Regions from separate parts of the Homo sapiens genome. Here region 2 is linked to region 1. Evidence: fine-mapped QTL for protein levels in blood plasma. Region 1 holds a variant in brackets. A gene starts in the other region. All regions are shown on their reverse strands.

Region 1 (2,913 bases):
GGGAGCCCTTCCTTAGGGAACACCATAATCGTTAATAATCATCAATTTCTCTTTGGACAAGAAGCCATTTTCAAGAGTAAATGCAGGGCTGGGTGCAGTGGCTCATGCCTGTAATCCCAGCACATTAGGAAGCCGAGGCAGGCGGGTCATGAGGTCAGGAGATCGAGACAGTAAATGCAAATACATGCCTGATACATGAAGCAACATGGATGAATCTCACCAACATCATATTGAGTGAAAGAAGCCAGGAACAGAGGAATACAGATTGCATGATTATGTGAAATTTAGGATCAGGCAAAACTGATGATCACAGACATTGAAAGAGTGGTTACAGTGGAGGAGGGGGGTGGGTGTTGAGGGAGAACAAGGGAACCTACATCTGGATCTGGGTGGTGATTACACGGATGATAGATATAAAAATCCATTGAATGGTGCACTTAAAATTAATGCATTTTGGCCGGGTGCGGTGGCTCATGCCTGTAATCCCAGTACTTTGGGAGGCCCACTCGGGTGGATCACGAGGTCAGGAGACCGAGACCATCCTGGCTAACATGGTGAAACCCCGTCTCTACTAAAATACAAAAAAATTAGCTGGGCGTGGTGGTGGGCACCAGTAATCCCAGCTACTCAGGAGGCTGAGGCAGGAGAATGGTGTGAACCCGGGAGGCGGAGCTTGCAGTGAGCTGAGATGGCGTCACTGCACTCCAGCCTGGGAGACAGAGCGAGACTCTGCCTCAAAAAAAATAAAAATAAATAAATAAAATAAAAATTAAAAAATTAATGCATTTTGCATACTTTACTGTATGTTATACCTCAATAAAGAAGAAAAAGAGTGAACCCAGCTTTCTCTGAAGTGTTCAGAACTAGTGGAAGGTAATAATCCAAGCCTGTGCTAATGTGCTGTCTTTCTTGCTTCCAAACTCTTTTTGTGTATGACTTCATATATTCACGGTGGACATTTCAGTTTTGCAGATCTCGTGGTGTGGGTACTCTTCTCTTCTTACCGTTCAGCTAGCAGTTGGTTGATGGTTAGATAGGCCCACAGTTTCCTGGTGAAATCGGGATCTGCATGCTTGTCTTTCGATA[G/C]AAAATCCTGCAAGTCGTCCATCTGGGCCAGGGTCTCCAAGACTAACTGCGTGTTAGCCTAGATGATGGAAGGTTCAGTTGAGAGACACTGGGTAACAGAATTATAGTTCATTGATTCACATTTTTAGTACCTGCTGCGAATGAATGGGAATAAAAAAGAAATGGAAGGCAAAGCCTACGGAGGAAGGAAATGCATTCCTGTGCTTGGGATTGGGCTTGGGTGAAAAGGTCAGGATTTATGGAATAGCTGGGAAGATGGCAGAGATATTCTCATGCCTTCTCCATCACTGATTGCTTCTGTTCTACACCCATGATTCCAGGCAGGCAGAGCTGACATTCAAGAGGGACTGTATCTAGGGGGTCAGTTAGTAGATAGAATAAATGGATAAGTGGAAGTACCGAAGTCGCCGTGATAACGCTCTCTATTTGATCCAATTTAGCAGGGTCAAATTTTCCTGCCACCACAATCTCTGAGCCTCCAAAGTAGTTATGGAAATTGTTTTGAGTGACGTCCGTGACTGATGTATGGGGATAGTTGAACTGAACATTCCGGAGCAATGGAGTGGAGACCTGGTTGTAGAATTTCTACAATTCACAGAGAGAGAGAGAGAAATTATGTTCCTACTGCTTTGTAGATCTAAAGCATTTTATTTTATTTATTTATTTATTTTGAGACGATGTCTCACTCTGTTGCCCAGGCTGGAGTGCAGTGGTGGGATCTCGTCTCACTGCAATCTCCGGCTCCTGGGTTCAAGCAATTATCCCACCTCAGCCCCACAAGTAGCTGGGATTACGGGCACCCGCCACCAAGCCCGGCTAATTTTTGTATTTTTAGTAGAGACGGGTTTTCACCATCTTGGCCAGGCTGGTCTTGAACTTCTGTCTTGTGATCTGCCTGCCTGGGCCTCCCAAAGTGCTGGGATTACAGGGATTACGCCCAGCTGATCTAAAACATTTTACTCTGAGATTCTTCAAAGAATCAGCAGATACCTCTTAATTTATTCACACAGGACGTTTGGGACAAGGGAAAATGCTCGTAATTATCAGATTAAAAACAGAGAGAAGACAAAGACTTGTTGAGAACATTACCTTTGGTTTAAGAGCCTGGCATTTTTTTCCCTTTCTGTTACGGTCAGCGTGAAAAACTCTTGGACAAACTTATGATAAAAGTCAGCAGGAGGTCGGGCATGGTGGCTTGACCTGTAATCCCAGCACTTTGGGAGGCCAAGGCAGGCGGATCACCTGAGTTCAGGAGTTTGAGACCAGCCTCGCCAACATGGTAAACCCTGTCTCTTCTAAAAATACAAAAATTAGCCGGGCCTGGTGGCACATGCCTGTAATCCTGGCTACTCAGGAGACTGAGGTGCGAGAATCGCCTGAACCCAGGAGGCGGAGGTTGCAGTGAGCCGAGATCGCAGCACTGCACTCCTGAACCACTGCACCACACCATTGCACTGCCATTGAACGTACTTGTCACCCAGCCTGGGTGACAAAGCAAGACTCTGTCTCAAAAAATAATAGTAATAATTAAATTTTTACAAAAGTCAGCTGGGTTAATAGTCCCCAAATCAGAATCTTATCTCTTACTTGTTCCCAAATTTAAATACGATGCCTGGTACTGACAAAGAGCAGGGAAAAACATGTTCTTTCCCTACATCATTTTCTCATCTATTTAATCAAAACAAACAAGTAGTTTGTGTCTTTTCAATATATGTATTTTAATTAAAAAAATTATCTGTTGAACAGATGGATCTCACTATGTTGCCCAAGCTGGCCTTAAACCTCTGGGCTCGAGTGATCCTCCCACCTTGGCCTCCAAAGAGCTGG
Region 2 (2,913 bases), not on the chromosome of region 1:
CGGAGAGGAGGGGCCGGCTGAGGGGCTGGAAAACATCCCTAAACGTTAGCCTGGGCCCTGAAATAGTGCGGGAAACCAGAGCTCCTCTAAAGACAGAGGCAGGATAAAATTAGAAGACGTGGAAATCCCTAACGGAGGGAAGCTGGGCGGCAAGAGGGATCACGGTTATAACGGGCCAGTGGACTCCTGCAGCGCTTAGTCGGATCGGGTGTAAGGGGCCCTAGACGTCTATTTCAAGACTGTGATGGTTACCTCCACAACTCTCTTTAGGGCTCCTTAGGACTGAGGAATACTTTTTTAAAGCCAATTTTCCCGCCTTGTATGGTGTGCCTGAGCTCTGTGACCGCGCATGCAGAAATAGGGGTGTGTGTGTGTGTGTGTGTGTGTGTGTGTGTGTGCGCGCGCGCGCGCGCGCTTCCCATGAAAGCTTCCCCTAGAAGGTTGCCTGGCTTGGCTTGCCGTTACGCGCGCTCCCGGAACAAAGCCGCAGTGGGAGGTCCCGGCCCCGCTTGCCTCCTTACCTGCCGGCAGCCAGCTCCGGGCAGCCCAGCCCTGCACCGCGTGCAGGTCGGCTCGCGTCTGCCGCAGCTCCTCTAGCACCGCGGCCAGGGCGCGCCCCGCCTCCTCTGGGCGCTGCGCCTCCGCGCCCTCCATACGCGCCAGCCTGCGGCCCGCGTCGCGGGTCGCCTGCAGCAGCTCGTCCAGAGCACTGGTCAGCCTGGCCTCTGCGGGAGCCCCCGGCGCGCACGGCCTCGCCAGGCTTTCCGCGAGCCGGCCCAGCTCCTCCCGCAGCCTCTGCAGCTCGCCCCGCAGGACGTCGTCCGTGGCTTGCAGCAGCATGCGCTCTCTCATCTGCGAGTTCTCCAGCATGATGAAGAGCTTGTCCCATTCCGAGTGCTCCTGACCGCAGGCGCACGGCGTGGCTAGAGTACGGGATACACACACGTTAGCAGCCCGCCCAGGCCTGCCTTGGATGTGCTTTGTAAAAGCTGACCTCCCTCGGTGGTGCCAAGTTGCAGCCCGTTCCTGGCATTCCCCTTCCCTTTAAGGACACCTCCGAAAAACAGCATGTAAATGTCTCAGAAACGACAGAAATCATTCATTCAGGTATAGATTAAGTTGTACCCTATGAAATCGCCGGTTATGTAGCTCAAAACAGTCAAATATTGACGATTTGATATGATTCAACCCATTATGTACGTTACAGAAATAACTTTGAAACCTCCATCTTTCTTCAAGTGCTTCTCACTTTTGCATAACAAGCTATAAATTTTTAACTTGTCTCACTGGCCACAAAGTATATGTGTGTTATTTAGACCAAGAGGTGGATATGTAGTCAGGGTTAGCAGAGAAACAGTTAAAGTGAACTTACGGTCCTCAGTGGGATGGAGTCCATTGTCTATTTCGTTGTCCAAATTCACATACATGAGATCATAATCATCCGAGTTCTCGGCCAACACTGCAGACCAGAGAGCACAAAACAGAATCGCAAGGAGATGCATTGCTGGAGAGACGCAAAGTTCTTTCCACAGCTGGCGGGAGGAGACTCTCAAGTGAGCTGAGTTTGAGCGGAGGAGAGTGAGAGTGAGAGGCTGGAGCAGAGAGTCCTTAATAAATGCTGAGGAAAGCCTGAATGGGGATGAATGAGTAATGCTGGTGGCACTGCGGTAACGGGAGTTCCCCTGAATTTGGTGGGGGAGGGGGCTGGGTGGGAGAGCGAGGGAAATGTGGAAGTTGCACAATATTAAACCGCAAAGGTTTACGCTGCAGTCAGATTAATTGGAGGAGGGTCAGAGGGGAAAGAGGAGAGAAACTGGGCTTCTACTGTTCTCCTGAGAATTAGCTGTTGTAATTTGAATTGATAGCAATGGGGATGAAGGAGGGGTGGTAGGGGAGAAATTTCAGAGGGTACTGAAGCAAATCATCATTTCAGCATTTTCTGTGAGCTGTTATTATTTCACAACCCTTTATATATAGAAAACTTTCCATGTTTCCTTTGTACACTGTTTTACAGGTTGAAACTGAAAATGGTCTGATTCCAAGATAAACCAACATATTAAGAATAGTTATGGCTCTGAAAGTCAAGTCCAATCCGAGCTATCTTGTCTTTAATACTTGAGGAGTTGCACCTATACTTTTATAGATAATTTTTTTTTTTGAGACTGAATTTCGCTCTTGTTGCCCAGGCTGGAGTGCAATGGTGTGATCTCGGCTCACTGCAACCTCCGCATCCTGGGTTCAAGCGATTCTCCTACCTCAGCTTCCCAAGTAGCTGGAATTACAGGCACCCGCCACCACACCCAGTTAATTTTTGTATTTTTAGTAGAGACAGGGTTTCACCATGTTAGCCAGGCTGGTCTCGAACTCCTGACCTCAGGCGATCCACCCGCCTTCGCCTCCCAAATTGCTAGGATTACAGACGTGAGCCACCTCACCCGGCCTATGACAAACAACACAGTACAACTGGGTAAACCTAGAATGGGGAAAAAAAGCTGGGGGAAAAAAGGAATATACTTATTTAGTTATTTAGGTATGTTTCTTTTCATAACTTGGTATTATGTGGACATTATATTATTCTACAAGGTTTCGAGGCAAGGATCATGTTTTAAAAGTAAACTTAGAGATTTCTGCTTCTAACAATATATACAGGTCTGTGTTCACATGATATTAATAAAAACTTAAAAGGTACAGATGAGCTCCCATTAAAGTAAGGGGAAAATCCCGGAGCCAAAGATAGAGAGGAAAGCAAAAACAACAATCCCATGAGCTGATGCTAGGGCCCCTCTGGCATAGGAGTGAAGTGAGATAGGGGTTATTAGTTCTATAACCACCAAATGTTGATGACCATGTGGAAGCAAAGCTTAGGCCAAAGGTGGAGAGTTAGAAGGGAGATCCTCATGAAAGCCAGGACCC

Which allele goes with the higher level. Alleles are on the strand shown, and positions count from the first base shown. The strength of an association depends on the size of the effect and on how common the allele is.
In carriers of allele C in region 1, the plasma level of the protein whose gene starts at base 1,586 in region 2 tends to be lower than with G alone (strong association).

What was found. A credible set is the group of variants that fine-mapping cannot tell apart. PIP is the posterior inclusion probability: the model's chance that the variant is causal. The UK Biobank Pharma Proteomics Project read protein levels with antibody pairs (Olink). The fine-mapping took linkage between variants from a reference panel, not from the people measured, so its PIPs are less certain.
Region 2: it holds the start of PTX3, and the variant in region 1 is the best candidate, but not a certain one, in a credible set for the plasma level of the PTX3 protein (UK Biobank, PIP 0.52).

What each region holds. Positions count from the first base shown.
Region 1 is chr10:7,730,569-7,733,481 of GRCh38, reverse strand. It overlaps ITIH2 (inter-alpha-trypsin inhibitor heavy chain 2), which reads right to left. Exons shown (of 21, transcript NM_002216.3): 13 at 1,486-1,671; 14 at 1,005-1,144. Among named protein-coding and RNA genes, the nearest start is that of ITIH2, 29 kb to the right of the region's middle. The variant G/C (reference allele first, on the strand shown) is at 1,087.
Region 2 is chr3:157,435,523-157,438,435 of GRCh38, reverse strand. It overlaps PTX3 (pentraxin 3), which reads right to left and starts at 1,586. Exons shown (of 3, transcript NM_002852.4): 1 at 1,373-1,586; 2 at 522-923. The coding sequence starts at 1,502. The region is part of intron 4 of VEPH1 (ventricular zone expressed PH domain containing 1); the gene reads left to right.